3 separate regions of the Homo sapiens genome follow, and regions 1 and 2 are each linked to region 3. Evidence: fine-mapped expression QTL. A gene starts in region 3. Each other region holds a variant in brackets. All regions are shown on one strand. Distances are between the middles of the regions.

Region 1 (8,178 bases), 49 kb after region 3:
AATTTCAGGGAGGCAGTGGGGGATGGTCTGGGGTTGACAGGGAGAAGGACTCATCCACTCATGGATGGCTGAGCAGTGGGATGCTTTTAATGAAATCTGATAAATTGTAAGAGAAAGCTACTGTGTTACACCCCCTCCACTAGGGCAAGGGTAGGCAGGTAGCACCCCCAGTTCCTGGAAGCACTGTCCCCTGTGACCTCCTGGCTTTCCTGCTTTGAGCTGCTGCTGTCCTCATTTTTGGGAATTCCTGCTGACTTTGGGAGTTGGGGCAGAATCATAATTGCTTGTTTATTTAATGCCTAGGGTAGTCAGGTACTTTTCCAACAGCTTTATAAACTCATTCATTTAATGTTCCTACCCTTCAGTAGATCATATGACCTCCATTATACAGATGAGGAAACTGAGGAGGCACTGCAAGTTTAGCTAACTGGCCCAAGGTCACACAGCTGGTAGATGGTGGGGCTGAGACTTGAACCCAGTCTGCCTCCACAGTGCATGCTGTTAACCAAAGAGTGAAATAGTATCAAAGAGGAAAGAAAAGATCCATAGCAGCTTTATTTAGAATGATCTGAAATTGGAACAACCCCGTGTCCACCAGCAGGTGAATGATAAAAAATATAATGGCATATTCAAAGATTGGAATACTATACAGCAATGAAAAAGCAAAGTACTAGTACATTTAATAACATAGATAAATCTCACAAAACAGTAAAAGGACCCAGACAGAGTGAGTACACACTGTAAGATTTGATTTTGTGTGAATTTTGAGAACAGGCAGAACTAACCTTTGAAGGAGACTCAGAATGGGAATTATCAGGAAGGAGCAGGTGGAGATTGACAACGGGGTTTCTGTATGCTGGAAATGTTCTATATTTTGATCATAGAGATGTGCATTTACCACATGTGTGTTAAATCTCAGTTTAAAGATGGAAAATACATACATGTATCATAATCAAATAGTGGTTTTCGACCTGATCTTTACTTTGTATTCTTTTTTAAAATGTTTTAATTTTAGAATAATTTTGGGTTTATAGCAAAGTTGCAAATGTAGGAAAGAGATTTCCCATATGTAAATCCCTCACCTAGGGATCCCTAATGTGAACCCAGTTTCTCCTAATGGTAACATTTCACATGGTAATGAGGTAGGAAACTGGAAGAACTTGTTTTCTGGCCACAACCCTGCAGACCCATACAGAATCTGGTCCAGATGAGATGATGTGAAGAAACCAGCAGGAACCAGCAGATGGCAACAAAAGCAATCCCTGGCTGCCTCATTGCTCGTGGGCATAAGATACTCCCTCCAGTGCCATGACTGTTTACCGATGCCATGGCAATGACCTAGAAGTTCCCACCTGTTTCCATGGAAACAACCTGGACATCTTCGCCCTTTTCCTTAAAACTTCTAAAGAACCTGCTCCTCAATTTGCATTGACCCACCCCTTAACTGACGTATAACTGAAAGTGAGTTGACATGAGTATAACTACAGCTGCCAAGAGCTTGTATGTTGTTGACTCTGGGTGCACTGCCTATGAGTTAGCCCTGCTTCACAAGGAGCAGTATCATTACATAAAAAATATCTGTCTAAGGCCAGGTATGGTGGCTCACGCCTGTAATCCTAACACTTTGGGAGGCTGAGGTGGGCGGATCACAGGGTCAGGAGTTCGAGACCCTCCTGGCTACATGGTGAAACCCCATCTCTTTTAAAAATACAAAAAAAATTAGCCAGGCATGGCACGTGTCTGTAGTCCCAACTACTCAGGGGGCTGAGGCGGAAGAATTGCTTGAACCTGGGAGGCAGAGGTTGCAGTGAGCTGAGACTGTGACAATGCACTCCAGCTTGGGCGAGAGAGTGAGACTCCATCTCAAAAACAAACAAACAAAACCGGTGGCTCACGCCTGTAATCCCAGCACTTTGGGAGGCTGAGGCGGGCAGATCACCTGAGGTCAGGAGTTCGAGACCAGCCTGAGCAACATGGTAAAACCCTGTCTCTACTAAAAATACAAAATTAGCCAGGCATGGTGGCTGATGCCTGTAATCCCAGCTACTCGGGAGGCTGAGGCAGGAGAATCACTTGAACCTGGAAGGCAGAGGTTGCAGTGAGCCGAGACTGCAATACTGCACTCCAGCCTGGGCGACAGAGTGAGACTCCATGTCAAAAACAAACAAACAAACAAACAAAAGGTGGCTCACGCTTGTAATCCCAGCACTTTGGGAGGCCAAGGCAGGCAGATCACCTGAGGTTGGGAGTTCAAGACCAGTCTGACCAACATGGAGAAACCCTGTCTCTACTAAAAATACAAAATTAGCCAGGCATGGTGGCTGATGCCCATAATCCCAGCTACTCAGGAGGCTGAGGCAGGAGAATCGCTTGAACCTGGGAGGCAGAGGTTGCGGTGAGCTAAGATCGTGCCATTGCCTTCCAGCCTGGGCAACAAGAGTGAAACTCTGTCTCAAAAAAAAAAAAAATCTCTGTCTGACATCACTGGCTCACCCTTGAATTCTTTCCAGAGCGAAGCCAAGAACCCTCCCCAGCTAAGCCCCAATTTTGGGGTTCACCTGTCCTGCAACATTTGGTGACCTTGAAGGAACAAAGACAGTGAGCAAGCGGCAGTGACTGGTGCAGCACTGCCGATCTGCCGATGGTGATCGCCAGTGAGACAGTGAGACAGTGGGGATCACTGAAGAATTAGTAAGACAGCAGAGACAGTGGCAATTGGTGATTGGCAGAGAGGTGAAACAGCAAGGGATGGCAAGACAGCAAGACGGCAACTGGTAAGGTGGCAAGAGGCGCCCGTCGGTGATAGGTCAGTGAGACAGAGAGGTGGTGATCAGAGAGTGGTGGAGTGGTGGCAAAGAAAGAAAGACAGAGAGGTGGTATATTAGTCTGTTTTCACGCTGCTTGATGAAGACGTACCTGAAACTGGGCAATTTGTAAGAAAAAGAGGTGCCTTTTGGCCGTAACTGCCATCTTCCAGTAATTTGCCAAAATGATGAACGCAAAGGGGAAGAGGAGAGGCACCCAATATATGTTCTCTAGGCCTTTTAGAAAGCATGGAGTTGTTCCTTTGGCCACGTATATGCGAATTTGTAAGAAAGGTGATATTGTAGACATCAAGGGAATGGGTACTGTTCAAAAAGGAATGGACCACAAGGGTTACCGTGGCAAAACTGGAAGAGTCTACAATGTTACCCAGCATGCTGTTGGCATTGTTGTAAACAAACAAGGGCAAGATTCATGCCGAGAGAATTAATGTGTGCATTGAGCGCATTAAGCATGCTAAGAGCTGAGATAGCTTCCTGAAATGTGTGAAGGAAAATAATCAGAAACAGAAAGAAGCCAAAGAGAAAGGTACCTGGGTTCAACTGAAGCACCAGCCTGCTCCACCCAGAGAAGCATGCTTTGTGAGAACCAATGGGAAGGAGGCTGAGCTGCTGGAAACTCTTCCCTATGAATTCATGGCATCAGAGGTGTTAAAAAAATAAAAGACCTCTGGATTGTGAAAAAAAAAAAAAAAAGAAAAGAAAAGAAAAGAAAGAAAGAAAGAAAAAGAGGTTTAATGGGCGGTTCCACATGGCTAGGGAGGCCTCACAATCAGGTGGAAGGCAAAAGGTAAGTCTTACATGGCAGCAGACCAGAGCGAATGAGACAGCCAAGCAAAAGGGGTTTCCCCTTATAAAACCATCGGGTCTCATGAGACTGACTCACTACCACGAAAACAGTGTGGAGGAAACTGCACCCATGATTCA[A/G]TTATCTCCCACTGGGTTCCTCCCACAACACGAGGGAATTATGGGAGCTACGATTCAAGGTGAGATTTGGGTAGGGACACACCCAAACGATATCAGATGGTGATCAGCGGTCAGCAGGATGATGATTGGTGAGACGGAGAGGCAGCAGTTGACGAGAGACAGCAAGACAGCCATCAGCACTACGGTAATCAAAGCTGCAGAGCTGTAACACTAACCAAGGACTCTTTGAAGAACCATCATCTTCCCTAGCAGGCAATGGAGCTGAGCAGATGAACATTCGGCTGTAGTGCCATGTGATGTGGGACCAGCCACTCTGACCAGCAGGCCAATAGGCTACTGGTCCCCTGTGACAGCTGAGCTGGCCCAAGCTGGGAAACCTGGGCACCTGGCCTTGGTGGAGAAGACCTTCACCCAGGCCCTAAGTTGGAGACCAGTCAGTGCCATTTTGGCTCCTGGGGACAGGTGAGTGTCCCCTCTGCCCCCGCCTCCACAGTATTGTGTGAGCCAGGAAATAAGACTTTTGGCTAGATAGTCAATTCAAAGTCCCCTGTAGCACATCTGACCAACTACGTTCTTTTTTTTTTTTCTTTTTTTGAGGCGGAGTCTTGCTCTGTCGCCCAGGCTGGAGTGCAGTGGCGCGATCTCGGCTCACTGCAAGCTCCGCCTCCCGGGTTCACACCATTCTCCTGCCTCAGCCTCCCCAGTAACTAGGACTACAGGCGCCTGCCACCACGCCTGGCTAATTTTTTGTATTTTCAGTAGAGACGGGGTTTCACCGTGTTAGCCAGGATGGTCTCGATCTCCTGACCTGGTGATCCACCGGCCTCGGCCTCCCAAAGTGCTGGGATTACAGGCGTGAGCCACTGCGCCCAGCCCAACTACATTCTTATTACCCCTTTTCTTGGTCCTTCCTCCTCTAATGTCATTTTATTTTTCCATCAGCCGTTTATTTTATTTCATCTTGAAATGTATGTTTTGTTTACAGTTTTAGTTTTTTTGTTTTTGTTTATCATATGATATTACTTATCATGGATATTACTTATTACTTATCATCAGCCAAGCTTGATAACTTAGCTGAGGTACTGTTTGTCATGTTTCTCCCTATACAACATTATGATCAAATAAAGTTTTTTTGACAAACACATGGATGGCATCAGAAAATCTATTAATAATAGCATACCATCCGGGCACTGTGGCTCACATCTGTAATCCCAGCGCTTTAGGAGGCTGAGGTGAATGGATCACCTAAGGTCAGGAGTTCAAGACCAGCCTAGCTAACATGGTGAAACCCTATCTCTACTAAAAACACAAAATTAGCCAACACGGTGGCACATGCCTATAATCCCAGCTACTTGGGAGGCTGAGGCAGGAGAATCGCTTAAACCCGAAAGGCAGAGGTTGCAGTGAGCCGAGATTGTGCCATTGCACTCCAATTTGGGCTACAGAGTGAGACTCCATCTCAAATAATAATAATAATAATAAATCAAATAAACAATTTAAAGTAGAAAACCTACATATCACAGTAGATCAAATAAAAGGGTTCAATAAAACTCAACAGTGACTCATGATTTACATTTTTAAGTCTTCATCAACTAAGAGTAGAAGGAAATATCCTTAACATGGTTGTGGTATCCATCAAACCCACAGCAAACACCATTTCTACTGGAGAAACTTTAGAAGCATTCCCATTGAAATCAAGACAAATGAAAAGAAAATCCACAAACTTGCAAAAATATTTGCAAGACATATATAAAGAAATCATCCAGCCTGGGCAGCACCGTGAGATCTTGTCTCTACAAATAATTTAAAAATTTAGCCAAGCGTGGTGGTGCACACCTGTAGTCCCAGCTACTTGGGCAGCTGAGGTGGGAGATTGCTTAAGCTCAGGAGGTCAAGGCTGCAGTGAGCTATGATAGTGCCAGTGAGCTTCAGCCTGGGAAACAGAGCAAGACCCAATCTCAAAAGAAAAAAGAGACTCATATTCAAAGTAAGTAAAGAACTCCTAAAACCCAACAGTAAGAAAACAACAAACCTAGTTTAAAGATGAGCAAAAGTACAGATCAACAATGGAAAAACAACCCAATTAAAAATGGGCAAAGGACTTGACTAAACATTTTTCCAAAGAAGATATACAAGTGGCCAACGAGCACGTGAAAAGATGCTCGACATCACTAATCATTCAGGAAATGCAAATTAAAACCACAATGAGATACCACCTAACACCCACTAGGATGACTACTACAAAAAATAATAACGTGGCCGGGCACAGTGGCTCACGTCTGTAATCCCAGCACTCTGGGGGCCGAGGCGGGCAGATCATGAGGTCAGGAGATCGAGACCATCCTGGCTAACACGGTGAAACCCCGTCTCTACTAAAAATACAAAAAAATTAGCCGGGTGTGGTGGCGGGTGCCTGTAGTCCCAGCTACTCGGGAGGCTGAGGCAGGAGAATAGTGTGAACCCAGGAGGCAGAGCTTGCAGTGAGCCAAGATCATGCCACTGCACTCCAGCCTGGGCGACAGAGTGAGATTCCATCTCAAAAACAATAATAATAATAATAATATAATAACATAACAAATAATGGCAAAGATGTGGAGAAACTGGAACTCTTGTGCATTGTTGGTGGGAATGTAAAATGGTGCGGTCACCACAGAAAACAGTATGGCAGTTCCTAAAAAATAGAAATAAAAATTTCATTACATATAATCCAGCAATCCCACTTCTGGGTGTATACTCAAAACAATTGAAAGCAAGGACTGTTTTCTGTTTTATGGTGTAATTGTCTAGTTTTAGTCTTGGCGTAATGTGGGCCTGGTAGAATGAGTTAGGAAGAATTCCTTCCTCTTCAATTTTTTGGATTAGTTTGAGAATTTATGTTAGTTCTTTGTAAGTTTGGTAGAATTTAGCAGTGAAGTCATCCAGCCCTGGGCATTTCTTTGTTGGGAGGCATTTTACTTTGATTCAATCTCATTACTCATTATTGTTCTGTTTCAGGTTTTCTATTTCTTCCTGTTTCAATCTTGGTAGGTTGTCCAGGAATTTATCCATTTCCTCTAGGTCTTCTAATTTGGTTAGCATATAGTTGTTCATAATAGTCTCTGATGATTTTTTTTCTGTGTATTTCTGTGGTTTCAATCGTAATCTCTCCTTTTCAGTTCTGATTTTGTTTATTTGGGCCTTATCTCTTTTTTTCTTGGTTAGTCTAGATAGTGGTTTATCAATTTTGATTATCTTTTAAAAAAATTTCCTTTTGCTGATCCTCTGTTTTTGTTTTTGTTTTTGTTTTTAGTCTTTATTTCATTTAGTTCTGTTCTGGTTTGTGTTATTTCCTTCCATCTAATTTTGGGTTTGGTTTGGTTTTACATTCCTAGTTCCTTGAGGTGTATTCCTAGGTTGTTTATTTGAAATCTTTCTACTTTTTTGATGTAGGCATTTTGTGTGTTTTTTTGTTTTTAAGACGGCATCTCACTATGTTGCCTAGGCTGGTCTTGAACTCCTGGGCTCAAGCAAGCCTCTCACCTTGGCCTCCCAAGGTGCTGGGATTACTGGCATGAGCCACCGCACCCGGCCCTGATGTAGGCATTTATTGCTTTAAACTTTCCTTTTAGTGTTGCTTTTATTGTATCCCACAGATTTTGGTATGCTCTGTGTCCATTTTGATTTGTTTCAAGAATTTTTTTTATTTCTTTCTTAAGGTCTTCATTGACCCAGTGGTTGTTCAGGAGCATATGGTTTAATTTCCATGTATTTGTACAGTTTTCAGAGTTCCTCTTGTTATTAATTTGTAGTTTTACTCCATTGTGGTCTGAGAAGATATTTGATATAATTCTGATTTTGTAAAAAATGTGTTGTGGCCCAACATGTGATCTATTCTGGAGTATGTTCCATGTGCTGATGAGAAGAATGTGTGTGCTGCAGCTGTTGGATGAAATATTCTGCAAATATCTGTTAGGTCCATTTGGGCTAAATTGTAGTTTAAATCTGATGTTTCTTTGTTGATTTTTCTGTCTAGATTATCTGTCTCGTGCTGAGAGTGGGGTGTTGAAGCCCCAAACTATTATTGTATTGAAGTCTATCTCTCCCTGTAGATCTAATAAGATTTCCTTTATATATCTGGGGCTTTGGTGTTGGGTACACATATATTTAAAATTGTTATATCCTCTTGCTGAATCAATCCCTTTATCATTATATAATGACCTTCTTTGCCTATTTTTACTGTCTTTGACTTAAAGTCTGTTTTATCTGATATCAGTGTAGCTACTCCTGCTCACTTTTTGTTTCCATTTGTTAGAATTTCTTTTATCATCCTTTCACTTTTAGTCTATATGTGTTTTTTTTTTTAAGAGATGGGGTCTCACTCTGTTGCCTAGGCTGGAGTGCAGTGGCTATTCCCAGACACAATCAGCTCATTGCACCCTCAAAACCCTGG
Region 2 (8,178 bases), 37 kb after region 3:
CACATGGTCTATATCCTTCCGGAACTTGTTTTTGTCCTCTCCACATTACAATTATGAGATATGTCTATTCAACATTCATTCTGCATTTAAAATGAAGATAAGCACAAAAAATAAATGCTTAGTAAACACAGAACAGGATAAAGCTTCCTTAATTTGAGAAGTGGCAATTTCCAGGATCTTACAGAAATGTCTTCCTTAATAGTGAAACATGAGAACCATTTTTGGTAAGATCCAGAAGAAATTCAAAATGTCCACGGTGTAGGGGATTGAACAGTGTCCCCCAAAAGCAATGCTGGGGCTAACTGTGGTGGCTTACACCTGTAATCCCAGCACTAGGCTGAAGAAGTGCTTGAGGCCAGGAGTTGGAGACCAACCTGGACAACACAAGAAGACCCCACCTCTACAGAAAAATTTAGCTGTGTGTGGTGGCACATGTTTGTAGTCCCAGCTACTCAGGAGGCTGAGGCAGGGCAATCTCATGTCACTACACTCCAGCCTGGGCAACAGAGCAAGATCCCCTTTTTTTTTTTTTTGAGACAGGGTCTCACTCGGTTTGCCCAGTGGCAGAATCACAGCTCACTGCAGCCTTGACCTCCAGAGCACAAGTGATCCTCTTGCCTGAGCCTTCCAGGTAGCTGCAACTGCAGGGGAGCACCACCATGCCCAACTCTTTCTTTCCTTCCTTCCTTCCTTCCTTCCTTCCTTCCTTCCTTTTTCTTTCTTTCTTTCCTCCTTCCTTTTTCTTTCTTTCTTTCTTTCTTTTCTTTCTTTTTCTTCCTTCCTTCCTTTCTTTTTCTTTATTTCTCTCTTTCTTTCTTTCCCTTCTTTCTCTCTTCTTTCTCTCTTCTTTCCTTCTTTCTTTCTTTCTCTCTCTCTCTTCTTTCTTTTTATTCTTCCTTCCTTCCTTCCTTTCTTCTCTCTCTCTCTCTTTCTTTTTTTTTTTTGACAGAGTTTTGTTCTTGTTGCCCAGGCTGGAGTGCAATGGTGCAATCTTGGCTCACTGCAACCTCCGCCTCCTGAGTTCAAGCAATTCTCCTGCCTCGGCCTCCCAAGTAGCTGGGGTTACAGGCGCATGCCACCACTCCTGGCTGATTTTTTGAATTTAGTACAGATGGGGTTTCACCATGTTGGCCAGGCTGGTCTTGAACTCCTCATCTCAGGTGATCCCCCCGCCTCGACCTCCCAAAGTGCTGGGATTACAGATGTGAGCCACAGCACCCAGCCAGTTTTTCTATTTTTTTTTTTTTTTTTTTTTTTTTGTAAAGATTTGATCTCACTTTGCTGCCTAGGCTGGTCTCGAACTCCTGGCCTCAAATAGATCCTCCTACCTCTGCCTCCCAATGTGCTGGAATTATAGGTGTGAGCTGCCTCACCCAGCCCCTATCTCTTAAAAGCAAAACAAAGCAAAATGAGAGAAGAGAGACACAGAGGGAAGATGACGTGAAGAGGTAGGAAGGGAGAAAATCATGATAACAGAAGCAGAGATTCCAGCAATGGGTGTACAAGCCAAGGAACGCCAAAGGTTGTCGGCAACCACCAGAATCTAGAGAAACGCAGGGAAGGTTTCTCCCCTACGCAATTCAGAGTGAACACAGCCCTGCTGACACCTTGAGTTCAGACTTCCGGCCTTCAGGACTGTGAGAGAATAAATTTCTGTTGTTCAAAGTCCCCGCTTTGTGCTACTTTGTCGTGGCAGCCCTAGCTCACTGATTCTGGCTGGATAAGGGGTAATTTCTGTGAGCCTGCCGAAACGCCTTACTCAATAGTGAAATGTGAGAAGCATATTTAGTAAAATCAAGAACACGATAAAGATGCCCCTCTTGCTATTTTGTCGATGCAATAAGGAAATATAAAGAATTAAGACCTGTAAATATTGGAAAGGATGAGTCAAAGCTGACAATATTTGGAAGATGCGATCTTGTATCTAGGAAGCTCTAGGGACTTCTGGACTAATTAAAGAACTTGGTTGGGCGCAGTGGCTCACGCCTGTAATCCCAGCACTTTGGGAGGCTGAGGTGGGTGGATCAAGAGGTCAGGAGATCAAGACCATCCTGACTAACATGGTGAAACCCTGTCTCTGCTAAAAATACAAAAAAAAAAAAAAAGTAGCCGGGCGTGGTGGTGGGTGCCTGTAGTCCCAGCTACTCGGGAGGCTGAGGCAGGAGAATGGCGTGAACCTGGGAGGCGGAGCTTGCAGTGAGCGGAGATCGCCCCACTGCACTCCAGCCTGGGCGACAGAGTCAGACTTCATCTCAAAAAAAAAAAGGGAGGACATTCTGACACATGCTACAACATGATGAACCTTGAGGAAAATATGCTAAGTGAAATAAGCCAGTCATAATAAGACAAAGGCTGTATGATTCCATTCATGCGGGGTCCCTAGAGTCATCAGATTCATAGAAACAGAAAGTAGAATGGTGGGTGCCAGGGGCTGGGGAACGGGGAATGGGGAGTCAGTGTTTCCTGGGGACAGAGTTTCACTTGGGAAGATGAAAAAGTTTGCGAGATGAATGGTGGTGATGGTTACACAACAATGTGAATCTACTTTGTAAAAGAAAAGAAAATTTCATAGGCTGGGCACGGTGACTCACACCTGTAATCCTAGCACTTTGGGAGGCGAAGGCGGGTGGATCACCTGAAGTCAGGAGTTCGAGACCAGCCTAGCGAATGTGGTGAAACCTTGTCTCTACGAAAAATACAAAAAAATTGCCGAGCATGGTGGCGGGTGCCTGTGATCCCAGCTACTCAGGAGGCTGAGGCAGGAGAACTGCTTGAACCCAGGAGGCAGAGGCTGCAGGGAGCTGAGATTGCACCACTGCGCTCCAGCCTGGGTGACAGAGTGAGACTCTGTCTCAAAAAATAAAAATAAAAATAAAAATCCTTTGGGCTCCACCTACTCCACAGATAGATTTTCAAAATTCTGTTGAAGGATTTCCAAACAGATTTTAAAACAAACTTGACAAGCTCATTATTTGGAATATAATAAAGAGGTTATACTCTTTAGTTGGGAATAAATAGCAAAGCTACAAGTGGGGACAGTAACCTCTTGAGATGGGAAAACGGGGACGGAATGAGCTTTAGTTTTCACTGTAGAGATTGATACGTTTTGGTTCTGTGTGCACACGTGACTTATTCCACAAGTAAATGAAAACCTTTAAAGCCAGAGTAGACTCAAAAATCATCCAAAAATTGCACAAGAATACCTGAGAACATTTTGATAGAGAAGAGCCATGACCAGGCAGGCCACAGCGGCCCAGGCCTGTAAACTCAGCACTTTGGGAGGCTGAGGCAGGAGGATGAGTTGAGCCCGGGAGTTCAAGAACAGCATGGGCAACACAGTGAGACCCCATCTCTACAAAAAATTTTTTAAAAGTAGCTAGATATGGTGATGCACACGTGTGGTCCCAGCTACTCAGGAGGCTGAGGTGGGAGGATCACTGGAGCCCATGAGGTCAAGGCTGCAGTGAGCCATGATTGCACCACTGCACTTCAGCCTGGGT[G/A]ACAGAGCAAGACCTTGTCTCCCACATAAAAGGAGCCATGCCTGGTAGTTATCAAAATATAAGCTTGGCTTGGGTTTCCCCTACTAAAGAGCTTGAGACAAGGATTTGGATATAAGTAGCTTATCTGGGAGGAGATTCCAAGAAGCATCAGCAGGGGATGGGAAGAATGAAGAGGAGCAGGTAGGGAAAGGAAGGAACCCAATACAAAGGCACCAATGAGCTGAAAAGGGCAATTGGGTCCAATCCCCCTGGGAGCCTCTGGGAGACGACATAGAACAAGCCTCACAGTTCCTCTGCCTGTTGAAGGTCAACTCTTAAGTAAGACGGAATTTAGCTTGCAAGCTGTTTATGAAGGTGCATCTTTGGGGTCAACATCAGTAGAAAGGAAGTGATGTTTGTGGTGTCTTATTTACACCAAAGAAATTCTCTAATTCTAACACTAGCTTCCTGGAGTTAGCACCACATTCCACAAATTAAAGGGCTAGGTCCCAAAAGACTGACCCTGCTTCAGATGCCAGGTGCAAAGACAGTCTTTGCACTGTCTACCCACACTTCTGCCAGGCTGGCAAAAAATTGTGGCTTCCCATAAGTCCATCTCAAGTTCAGTAATTTCCTAGAATGATTTAGAGAACTCGGGAAAACATTTTGCTTATGTTGTTGCCGAACTAAATTGGGTCAGTTCCCTGGCTCACAGTGGAAAACCAAACACTGAAGCACTGGGGTTTTGTAGAGAGAAAAATTTATTGCAAGGCAGCCAAGCAAGGACACAGGAGTCTGGCCCAAATCTGTCTCTCCAAGTTGGAGGCTGGGGCAGATTTTATATACAGAGGGTAGTGAGGCATGATATGATTGGATCTTGTAATGAGGGGATTCAGGAGGCTTGATCTGACTGGATCACGCCAGGGCTCAATCTGATTGGATCAAGGATCATGCCACGTGGTGTCCACTTCTTAACTCAGTCCCTGTTCCTCGGTCTGAGCACTTAGGTTCCACGTGGATTTGCACGCTTCGTTCATCTGGACATGCCCAGGGTATGTAACTTGCAACCTGGGGGTCCACGACAACTGAAAAACAACTCGCCATTTTATTACACAAAGTTGAACCAGATTGGGCTGAATCTGCGGTTACAATGTTTACCAGTTTATTATAAAGGATACAACTAGAGGGGCGGGGCGGTGCCGGCAAGATGGCTGCGCCCGAAAAGGTGACATTTCCAGAGAAACCAAGCCACAAAAAGTACAGGGCCGCCCTGAAGAAGGAGAAACGAAAGAAACGCCAGCAGGAACTTGCTCCACTGAGGGACTCAGGACTCTCACAGAAAGAGGAGGACACTTTTATTGAAAAACAACAACTAGAAAAGCTATGGGGAAGAGAGAGGCAAAGATTACATGAGGAGTGGTTGCTGAGAGAGCAGAAGGCACAAGAAGAATTCAGAATAAAGAAGGAAAAGGAAGAGGTGGCTAGAAAACGGCAAGAACAAGAGCGAAAGTTAAAGGAACAATGGGAAGAACAGCAGAGGAAAGAGAGAGAGGAGGAGGAACAGAAACGACAGAAGAAACAAAAACCGGAAGCTGTCCAGAAGATGCTGGATCAGGCTGAAAATGAGTTGGAAAATGGCGCCACATGGCAAAACCCGGAACCCCCCCTTGGATTTCAGAGTCATGGAGAAGGATGGAGTTAATTGTCCCTTCTACAGTAAAACAGGAGCTTGCAGATTTGGAGATAGATGTTCACATGATTTCCCAACATCCAGTCCTACCCTTCTTATTAAAAGCATGTTTACAGTGTTTGGAAAGGAGCAGTGCAGGAGGGATGACTATGACTCCGAAGCAAGCCTGGAGTACAGCGAGGAAGAAACCTACCAACAGTTCCTAGATTTCTGTGAGGATGTGCTGCCCGAGTTCAAGAACGTGGGGAGAGACTGGGCGCGGTGGCTCAGGCCTGTAATCCCAGCACTTTGGGAGGACGCGGCGGGCGAATCACGAGGTCAAGAGATCGAGACCATCCTGGTCAACATGTTGAAACCCCGTCTCTACCAAAAATACAAGAATTAGCTGGGCGCAGTGGTGCACGCCCAGCTAATTTTTGTACTTTTAGTGGAGTCCCAGCTACTCGGGAGGCTGAGGCAGGAGAATCGCTTGAACCCGGGAGGCGGAAGTTGCAGTGAGCCTAGATCGCGCCACTGCACTCCAGCCTGGCGACAGAGCAAGACCCCATCTTTAAAAAAAAATAGTAATTAAAAAATAACGTGGGGAGAGTGATTCAGTTCAAGGTCAGTTGCAACTTGGAACCTCACCTGAGGGGCAAGTATATATGTTCAGTACCAGTCGGAAGAAGAATGCCAAGCAGCTCTTTCTCTGTTTAACGGACGATGGTATGTACGCAGGACGACAGCTTCAGTGTGAATTCTGCCCAGTGGCTCGGTGGAAAATGATGATTTGTGGTTTATTTGAAATACAACAATGTCCAAGAGGAAAACACTGCAACTTTCTTCAGGTGTTGAGAAATCCAATAGAGACCTCTGCTTGTCTCCTCCTTTGGCAAGAGCTCCAAGGGGAGAGAGAGGGTGGGCCACCACGATGAATACTACAGGCTGCGGGGAAGGAGAACCCTAGTCCAGACCATTCCTACAAAAGAAATGGGGAATCCGAAAGGAAAAGGAAGAAATCTCACTAGCACATGTCAAAGAGCCAGGAGAGGCACAATTCACCTAGCAGAGGAAGAAATAGTGACCGCAGCGGGGGCCGGTGCAGCCGCAGTGAGAACGGCCGGAGCCGTCACAGCCGGAGCCAAAGCTCCTCTAGATCCCAAAGTCGTGGTAGGAGGAGATCAGGTAGTAGAGACAGAACTGTTCAGAGTCCCAAATCCCAATAAACCTGTTTTATTCTTACAAAAAATAATAGGCCAGGCGCGGTGGCTCACACCTGTAATCCCAGCAATTTTGGGAGGCCGAGGCGGGCAGATCATCTGAGGTCGGGAGTTCAAGACCAGCCTGACCAACACGGAGAAACCCCATCTGTACTAAAAATACAAAAAATTAGCCGGGTCTGGTGGCGCCTGCCTGTAATTCCAGCTACTCGTGAGGCTGAGGCAGGAGAATCACTTGAACCCGGGAGGCAGAGGTTGCAGTGAGCCAAGATCGCGCCATGGCACTCCAGCCTGAGCGACAAGAGTGAAACTCCATCTCGAAAAATAGTAATAATAATAATAAAATAAAGAATACAACTTAGAAACAGCCAAATGGAAGCCATGTATAAGACAAAGGAAGATGTGGGGGTGGAAGGGGTTGCGTGGAGCCTCCATGCCCTCTCTGGGTGCCATTGGTTGACTGGGGGAATTAATTCCCTGGTGCTTCCAGCCTGCAAAATGAGCTCTTGCAACCAGTAAGTCCCCGATCAAAGGGGTGCAGGAGGTGGTAGGTGGAAGTTGAACAGATGGTAGGTTTGCATGTATAAGATAACGCCCCAGGGGACATAGCAGCTACACATGGCAACCCAAATATCCTAATCTCCAAAAGGAAGAGAGAGTGGATTCTTGGAACACAAGTCCACCCCCAAAGGCATCCCACACCAGCTCACTCATAAAGCTCCAAGGATGGGCCAGAAAAACAAGCTCTACACCAGGGGAAATTGGAGGCATGACAAGAAGGACAGAATGGGACCCAGCCTTCTAAAGGAGGAAGAATCTGACAAAGAACAGTCCCAGAGATTTTGTGAAGGTCGAAGGATGGAGAGAAGGAACTGTAGCTTAAAAGGGGGTGAAGTTCTGCTACGCAGGAGGGGGGTTTGGGGTGGCAGGGGCTGGAGAAAGAAACTGTTCTTCATCCCTGGAGCAGGAGGCTGCGGACTTTTTGCAGATCCAGAATTTGGCAAGATTACATTTGTCGTCGTTCCAGCCATTGCCACTAAATTCCGCGCAGTCTTCCTCCCCAACGTTGTTGGGCTCTCCTCTGTTCCAATACTGCTTGAAGCTGCAAAGCCCATGCGGAATGTGAGCCTCTGTCCCCGCCAGCTACATGAGCTGTGTTTCTACCTTCTGTCATCTTGATGCCTTAACATCTGCCCTGCGTGTGTATGCTGGACTTGAATCCCTCTGCATACCTGATAATATGCCTGACTCACGATGCCTTGAGTTCCTGCCTCTCTTCTCACAACCTGTCCTTGGGTGGACTCCACCTATTGAGTGTGTGATTTTCAAATACAAGCCAACCAGTCTGGAGTCCACACCTCCAGCGACCTGCCTTACTGGGCTCTTGTACTCCAAGCCACTATCCTGTACTAATCACCCCAAGGCCAGGTGTCAGACAGCGAGGGGCAGCCCCTGTGCCCCAGAGCCCAAAAAATGCTTCACACTTCCCAATCCTAAGCCTGTTCACCTGGCCTTGACCTTTCCTTTCCACAGAAACCATAATAAAGGCTCTGGCCCACAGTCCCCCCTCCCCACCACTCTGACTCATAACAGACCCTGGTGCTTCCCCAGGTGGCCCCCAGCTGTGATGTGTCCTCTCTCTAGGGATCTGTGTATATGAGAAGCTATTCACAATGGCAGGTGTCTCCTGAGCTGGTGGCCTTACTGGACCTCAGACTTCCTATTAATACATTATATTTTAATACACCTCCCCGGTGGCAGGCTCCTCCTGCAGCTCTGCTGGTGGAATTCTAGGCACCTGCCATGCTGT
Region 3 (8,170 bases):
GCTGGGCATCCTAACCCTCACCCCCACCCCCTCCACCTTGACCCCTTCATACCGTTCCGGGCAGCCCTCTCTTCCAGCTGTTTTAGACTCTGTGTGGTGTCCCAGTCTGGGGAGGGGGAGAGAAGAGGAGTGGAGAGGGGGGATTGTCAGTGCCCCCACCTGCCTGCACCCCACCTCCCAGCTGGGGATGGAGGTCTTGGGTATAAGCCATGGAGGTGCTGAAAGTGTGGAGGACAGGGATGCTGGGTGTGGGGTGAGGGGCTCTGGAGGGTGGGGGATGGGAAAGGGCTGGCAGTGGCAAGATGGGAGGCAGGATGGGAAAATTGGGTTTTGAGAGGATGCGTTGGGCTCCCCCAGCTCTGAGATGGGGGTGAAGGAGGGAACACAGAAGGGCCCCATGAGTTGGGGGGACCACATGGAGCTGGGGGTGTCCTCACGCCACAGGAGAAGCAGAGTCAGCAGCCCAGCCCACAGAGCGGCGGTCACCAGCCCCAGCAGCACGATCTGAGTCCCACGCCTGCAACACCGCCTCCTGGGAAGCTCCTCGATCTCTGCCGGGGGTGGAGGGACTGACTATGGGTGCAGGGTGAAGCTGGATGCTGGCCCTGTCCGTCTCTCCATTACCCAGAGCCCCCGACAGCCTGGGAGCTTGTCCAGAGCCCACACTGAAGCAAAGGGTCTCAGTGGACCCCCAGCTCCATTTGCACAGCTTCCTTACCTGACTCAGGGCTGGGTCACTGACCACAGAGACAGATCTGGGACTAAGAGCTAAGACTCCCTCAGCCCCAACAACCAATGCCAGGCCCCCAGCTTCACTTCCAGAAGACTAGGTCCTGCTTTTTCCTTCCCCTCTGAGCCCCAACGCCCACCCTTACACCTCTGCACCTGTCCCCAACCTGGAGTCCCTTCCCTAAACCCAGGACACTGAGTCCCAGTTCTTCCCCAACATCGGAGCCACTCCCCAGCCACTTTCCCAGGTGTCATCCAACATCCAGACCTCCAAACCTCTCCCAGACCCCACCCAAAGGTCTATCTGGATGTCCCACCTCAAGCCCCTGGCCCTCTGCACTCACCCTGGCTTGGAGGATTCATTATGCTAAATTCTGCTTGTTCCAAGTTCCTGTTCTATTTGGCCTCTGACTCTATTGGGCTCCCCGCTCCCTAGCTGAAGCCGTTTTTTTTTTTTTTTCTTTTTCTTTTTTTGTCAGGAGGGTGTTGAATCAGAAAAAGGAGGGGCCCTCAATTTGCCACTCCTTCCTGGCTCTGTGCCAGGAAAGTCAGTCCGGCCTCACCTCCTTACTCACACCAGTCCCTTTCTTAGAAATTCACCCTCTTTCCCAGAGAGGGACTGGGGAGCCCCGCTTCTCTTCTGGGTGAAAGGCAGTAGCTAAGGGTCATTGCTTCTGCCAACGTTAGAACCAGAGAGTCCTCCTACCTGAATATTGACCTTCCTCCATGGCGGTCCTGCTTGGATTCTCCCGATGATGGAGCACTCACTCCCTGACAACGCAGTCCACTCAGCGGGCACAATCACAGCTCTGGCTGATTTGGGATTTAATGATGGTTAGGGTGAGCCATCAAATCCTAGTTACCAGCACAGGATAGCATCTGGGACTTGGTGGCACTCAGGGGCCATTTGCTGATTTTGTTTAGTCTACAATCTGGACTCACTAGCGTGGTTAGCAGGGAGACACAGCTGGTGTGGAGAGATAGCAGCCTGAGATCAGAAGTGGGGCACTCCAGAGCCCATCACACTTGAGCTACACAGCAGGTGCACCCATGAGATCTTGACAAATGGCTTAATTAACCTGGAAACTTCTTTCCTCATTCGTAAAATGATGATACCAAGAACACCTATACTGTTGGTTGGTGATCTGTGCTAAAAATATCACCAGCGTTTATTATAATTGCCTTGCCTGTGTGACCTCAGCCAAGGATTCAACCATTCTCAGCCTCAGTTTTCCCCTCTGTAAAATGGGCTGATGACAGCACCCAACTCATGAGGCCAAGATAGGATCCAATGAGATCACAGCATACCTGAGGTTTTTGGTGCCGGGCTGCGCACAGTGGGTCTTCGGATTCTAAACATTTATGAAACATCTACTCTGTGCCACGTCCCACTGAGAAATGCTAAGAGCCCATAACCCAGGCCTCAGCCTTCTCCTCTGCCAATGTCCCCAGGGCATCTGTAAAGTGCTCTGACTTTATTTATTTATTTATTTATTTATTGAAATGGAGTCTCGCTCTGTTGCCCAGGCTGGAGTGCAGGGGCACGATCTCGGCTCACTGCCACCTCCACCTCCTGGGTTCAAGCGATTCTCCCGCCTCAGCCTCCCGAGTAGCTGGGACTATAGGCACGTGCCACCATGACCAGATAATTTTTGTATTTTTAGTAGAGACGGGTTTTCACTATGTTGGCCAGGCTAGTCTCAAACTCCTGACCTCATGATCCGCCCGCCTCGGCCTCCCAAAGTGCTGGGATTACAGGCGTGAGCCACTGTGCATGGCCTATTTTTTTATTTTTTGAGATGGAGTCTCGCTCTGTCACCCAGGCTAGAGTGCAATGGCACCATCTTGGCTCACTGCAACCTCCACCTCCCGGGTTCAAGCGATTCTCCTGTCTTAGCCTCCCAAGTAGCTGGGACTACAGGCACCCACCACCACACCTGGCTAATTTTTGTATTTTAGTAGAGACAGGGTTTCACCATATTGATCAGGCTGGTCTCGAACTCCTGACCACAGGTGATCTGCCCTCCTCAGCCTCCCAAAGTGCTAGGATTACAGGCGTGAGCCACTGCGCCCGACCAAGTCCTCTGACTTTAAAGCATCTACTATGTGCTGAGGAGCATGGGACTTGGGGTCCTTCAGGCCTGGAGGTCACGGGCTACCTTCTTTCGCTGCTTGACTATAGGTAAGTCCCTTCTCTCGGAGCCTCAGGGAGGTGGGGTGTGGCGCGGCCAGGCTCTGATTAGCGGCAGCTCAAGCTGGCCCTTTTGACATTGTGAGAGGAACCCAGAGACCATCCTGGGACTGGAACTGTCCAGGGAGGCAGCTGGACAGACCTGAGTCCGAGTCCTGGCTTCTTCCTGGATGAGCAGCTCAGTTTGCTCATCTGTAAATTGGGAGTATTCAAAGCACCAGCACACAGTAGGTGCTCAGTAAACCTACTGGCAGGATGCTGGGGGACTGTCCTCATTCTGTGGGGCCTCTCTCAGTGGAACTGAGGTTCCAAGAGGGTAAGTCATTTGTCCCCATCACGCAGTGGTGGGACTGGAACTCAAACCCGGGACCCTTGAGCTGGGAGCCCATTTGCTCAATCATCTGGAGACATAATCTCATGGTGGGGTGTCTACTGGTAAGTGCTGGGTGGCAGGATCCCAACTCCAGGCCGTCCTTCTAACCCAAGAGGTCCTGCCTCTGCCTAGAGTCTTCCATGGCTCCCCAGGGCCCTCTATGATCGGCCCAGCGCACTCACCAAGCTCATCTCAGACCAGATGGCCTGCTTTCACTTCCCCAAATCAGGGACTCGAATGCCTCGAGATTCTGTCCACACTGCGGCCCCCACCCCCGCCCCCTCACCACCCACCACCTCCCTTCTCTGGTTGTGACCTCCTGCTGGTCATCCCTTGAGGCTCAGCCCAAGGTCGTTTCTTCCAAGGGCGCTTTGATCTCCACTTCCCATGGCCAACCCCCAACACACCAGATACGTACTCACTTAGTGGAGTTTGGAGCCTGTGTCTGTCCTCCTAGTGTGTTGGGGTCGACCAGAGCGATTGGCAGGGACCGTCAGAGACAGAGGTTTAAGCAGGAAGAGAGACACTTTCTTCTGAAAGTAGAGCCACTGACAGCTTCTATTTTCATAGACCTAAATATGGGCTTGCCACCCGGATAACATTACACGCATGGCCTCTCCTGGTGCTCCCCACACCCGGGTGAAGTCCGTGTTATTATTATCTCCATTTCTCAGGTAAGAGAATTGGGTGAGAACTAGAGATGTTAAGCAGCAAGTTCCCACAGGGCTGAAGGAGGTGAGTGGTAGCGTCAAGATGTGAACCACTGTTACTGCACACTGAATCATACCACTATGGCCGATCACAGAGGGCCCTGGGGAGCCACGGAAGGCTCTAGGCAGAGGCAGGGCCTCTTGGGTTAGAAGGACGGCCTGGAGTTGGGATCCTGCCACCCGGCACTTACCAGCAGACACCCCACCATGAGATTATGTCTCTTGATGATTGAGCAAATAGGCTCCCAGGTCAAATGTCCCAGGTTTGAGTCCCAGCAAGAAAAAAGGGAAGAGGAGAGAGAGGCAGAGGAAGGGGAAAAAAAAGACAGAAGGAAGGAGAGGGAGAAGGAGGAGTAGGAGGGAAGGAGGGAAGCGGGGGGAAAGAAAGATACGTGAGATAATATTCAGGTCAAATATGGACAGTTTTGGCTGGGCACGGTGGCTCACGCCTGTAATCCCAGCACTTTGGGAGGCTGAGGTGGGAGGATCACTTAAGCCTGGGAGTTCAAGACCAGCCTGGACAACATAGCAAGCCGTTGTCTCTACAAAAACTATAAAAACTAGCAGGGCATGGTGGTGCATGCCTGTGATCCCAGCTACTGGGGAGGCAGAGGTGAGTGGATCACTTGAGCCCAGGAGTTCAAGATCAGCCTGGGCAACACAGTGAGATGAAAGAAAGAAAGAGAGAGAGAAAGAGAGAGAGAGAGACCGGGCACAGTGGCTCACGCCTGTAATCCCAGCACTTTGGGAGGCCGAGGCAGGTGGATCATCTGAGGTCAGGAGTTCAAGGCCAACATGGTGAAACCCTGTATCTACTGAAAATACAAAAAAAAAAAAAAAAAAAAAAAAATTAGCTGGGCATGGTGGTGGGCACCTGTAATCCTAGCTACTCGGGAGGCTGAGGCAGGAGAATCGCTTGAATCCGGGAGGCAGAGGTTGCGGTGAGCCGAGATCGCGCCATTGCATTCCAGCCTGGGCAACAAAAGCTAAACTCTGTCTCACAAAAAAAAAAAAGAAAAGAAAAAAGAAAGAAAAACAGAAAAGAAACACCAAACTCCATCCCAGCCCCATCCTGGAACTAAGACTTCATCCCCATGTCCTCACAACATGGCCCAGCTGGACTTATTCCCAAGCTTCCTCCTCCTTCTCCTCGTGTGTCCCCATTGGTGGGACAGTCCGTCCATCCACCCAGACACCCCGGCCCAGGTCCAGGCCTTGTCCAAGCACTTCCCGATCTTCCACCCCACCGCTCACCCAGCACCCGCGCCTGGCTCGTCTCAAAAAAATAACCTGCTTCTCCCCATCCCCACAGCTGCTCCCTCTTCCCCCTGGACCAGGTGACATCCCCCTCTTAGGGTTCCCCCTGCCTGGTTTGCCTTGTCCCTGGGACTGCCTCCTCCATGGCCTCCCCACTCTCATCCTGCCCCCATGACAGCCTTCCCTGGGGCTCTACCTCCTGTCTTGCCCCCCAAAACAGACCCTCCAGGGTCCTCACTCCCACCTGGCCACCACGGCAGACCCCCCCTTAGGATCCCCAACCCGACCTGCCCTCAAGACTAATCCCCCAGTGACCCCACCCTGGCTTGGCCTCAAATGCTGTCCCTATGTCCACTCAGCAGCCCCCAGCCACCTCTCCAATGCTCAGCGGCCAACTCTTTCCCTTCCTTTTTGATTTTTTTTCTTTTTTTGAGACAGAGTCTTGCTGTGTCATCCAGGCTGGAGTACAGTGGCATGATCTCAGCTCCCCATAACCTCTGCCTCCCCGGATTCAAGTGATTCTCCTGCCTCAGCCTCCCAAGTACCTGGGATTACAGGCACGCGCCACTACACCTGGCTAATTTTTTGTATTTGTAGTAGAGATGGGGTTTCACCAAGTTGACCAGGCTGGTCTTGAACTCCTGGTCTCAAGTGATCCACCCACGTCGGCTTCCCGAAGTGTTGGGATTACAGGCATGAGCCACCGCACCCGGACCCTCCCTCACTTCTTTACCATCTTGGTCCTCGGCCATTACCCCAGATCAAGGTGGAGGGGACATTTTGGGACCCAAAATGAACAGCCTCAGACCACCAGAGTCAGTCATTCACTCAACAGGCATGCACCAAGGGTCACTCGGTCCAGGGTGACAGACAAGGCAGCATGGTCCCAGCTGTTCTGGAGTGCAGGGTCCAGGGGACATTTCAGCCAGGCCCCTCCCTGACACAGTGGGAACGTCCAGCCCTAGTGGATGGCCCAGCCCAGCCCCCTCCTGGTTGGGAGGTGGGTTGTAGGGGCACAGGGGGGTGTCTTCTGGAGTGAGAGACATGGGAGGTAGCCCACCCAGGAGTGGGGATTTGGAGTTCCCCAGTTGAGAGTGGGGAGGGTGTTAAGGATCAGGGGACACATTTTGGGAAGGATGAGGAGGGTGGGCAAAGTGCCAAGGGGTCTTAGTATATAGAAGTCTAGGTGGCATAGTGGCTAGGGCTGCAGATGCCTGACCCACACTACCTGTGTTCAAATTCCTGGTTCTTCCATTGAAGTGCTGTGTGACCTTTGGCAAGTCACCTAACCTCTCTGTGCTTCACATAAGGCAGCATTGATCACCAAAGCATCTAATTCCTAGGGTGGTGGTGAAAATTAGATGTGTTAATATGCACACAAGTCACTAAGAACTGTGTCCGGCTGGGCGTGGTGGCTCATACCTGTCATCCCAACACTTTGGGAGGCTGAGGCGAGTAGATCACCTGAGGTCAGGAGTTTGAGACCAGCCTGGCCAACACAGTGAAACCCCGTCTCTACCGAAAAGTGCAAAAATTAGCCAGAAGTGGTTCCAGGTGCCTGTAATCCCAGCTACTCGGGAGGCTGAGGCAGGAGAATTGCTTGAACCTGGGAGGCGGAAGTTGCAGTGAGCTGAGATTGCGCCATTGCACTCCAGCCTGGGCGATCCCAAAAAACAAACAAACAAACAAATTCCTGTGCCCAGCAACCATTGCTACTAAATTAAACTATACAACAAAATTGTCCATATTTTTTTTTAGAGACAGGGTCTCGCTCTGTCTCCCAGGCTGGAGTGCAGTGGTGCGATCTCGGCTCACTGCAGCCTCAACCTCCTGAGGTTCAAGAGATCCTCCTACTTTCTCCTCCTGAGTAGCTGGGACCACAGGCACGCACCACCACGCCTGGTTAATTTTTTAAATTTTTGGTAGCGATGGGGTCTCACTATGTTGCCCAGGCTGGTCTCAAACTCCTGGGCTCAAGTGATCCTCCTGCCTCAGCCTCCCAAAGTGCTGGGATTACAGGCATGAGTCACTGTGCCCAGCTGGAATTTGGTGTTTCTGAGTTCTACAAGCCCAGGTGCCCCAGCCCAACCCCACCGGCCCCATCATGTCCTTCCCAGGGGTGAAAGCCCCCTGCCTGCTGGGTTCCTGCCAAGACTCAGCTCAAACACTAGGATGCTTTGGGGCCCCAAGGACCCAGTCACGGGACTGCCCCACCCGCTTCCCCTCTGCGGTATTAATACGCCTCTTGCTCACTTCGGGGGAAAAACAGAAAATTGTGCGGATGTGGGCCCCAGATCTGTGGGTGTCGGTTCTTCTTTCAGATTTGGGATCCTCTGCATGTTGGGGGAGGCCGCGTCTCGCTCCTCGTTTGACCTAGGTCAGAATTCAACAGGAAGGAGTTTAGGGTGTCCAGCAACAACAACCCTCAACCATCTCCAGCTGAGCTCTCATCCCAGCCCCGGCCCTGACCGTAACCCCAGCTCAACTACAACTTGATCCCCTCACCCCACGATGCTCTGATCCCAGCCCTAACCTCTGCTCTGCACAGGACGGAGGCACGTCCGCGGCTCTAATCACAGAACCCCCACACCTGGGACAGGGCCTGGCGCTGTGTCCCAACGAGATGGAGCCTGGCGACCCTGACTCTAACCCCATCCCGACACAGCCCTGGGCTTTCCTACCTGTTTAACCTCTCCTGGGGTTACGAAGGGGAGAAGGAAAGGGTGCAGGGGTGGGGAGGAAGGGCAGTAGGTGTGTCAAATCCAGGGGGGCTTCCAGGAGGAGGTGTGTTCAAAGCTGGGTCTCTCCCACCCTGCACTGTTGACTTTGGGACTGATGATTCCTCGCTGGGATGCTGTCCTGTGCATTGTTGGATGTTTAGAAGCATCTCTGGCCACTAGTCGCCGAAAG

What was found. PIP is the estimated chance that this variant, and not a neighbour inherited with it, causes the effect.
Region 1: its variant is fine-mapped to the expression of FCER2 in whole blood (TOPMed, PIP above 0.99).
Region 2: its variant is fine-mapped to the expression of FCER2 in whole blood (INTERVAL, PIP 0.95).

Annotation. Positions count from the first base shown.
Region 1 is chr19:7,747,695-7,755,872 of GRCh38, forward strand. It overlaps the pseudogene RPL21P129. Among named protein-coding and RNA genes, the nearest start is that of CD209, 4.2 kb to the left of the region's middle. RefSeq lists promoters at 1-1,145, 1-858, 1-925, 1-324, 1-289 and 7 more, cis regulatory regions at 18, 153, 688, an enhancer at 908-1,409 and a silencer at 1,189-1,483. The variant A/G (reference allele first, on the strand shown) is at 3,750.
Region 2 is chr19:7,735,771-7,743,948 of GRCh38, forward strand. It overlaps CD209 (CD209 molecule), which reads right to left. Exons shown (of 7, transcript NM_021155.4): 7 at 4,223-7,470. The coding sequence ends at 7,269. It also overlaps the pseudogene LOC100129391. Among named protein-coding and RNA genes, the nearest start is that of CD209, 7.7 kb to the right of the region's middle. RefSeq lists an enhancer at 7,678-7,777. The variant G/A (reference allele first, on the strand shown) is at 3,501.
Region 3 is chr19:7,698,304-7,706,473 of GRCh38, forward strand. FCER2 (Fc epsilon receptor II) reads right to left here and starts at 3,828. Exons shown (of 11, transcript NM_001220500.2): 1 at 3,712-3,828; 2 at 1,436-1,542; 3 at 438-551; 4 at 53-106. The coding sequence starts at 1,457. It overlaps LOC105372262 (a long non-coding RNA gene), which reads right to left. Exons shown (of 5, transcript XR_936296.2): 2 at 7,942-8,170; 3 at 7,514-7,633; 4 at 6,489-6,599; 5 at 4,777-4,818. RefSeq lists enhancers at 1,542-1,611, 3,715-3,824, 7,193-7,262.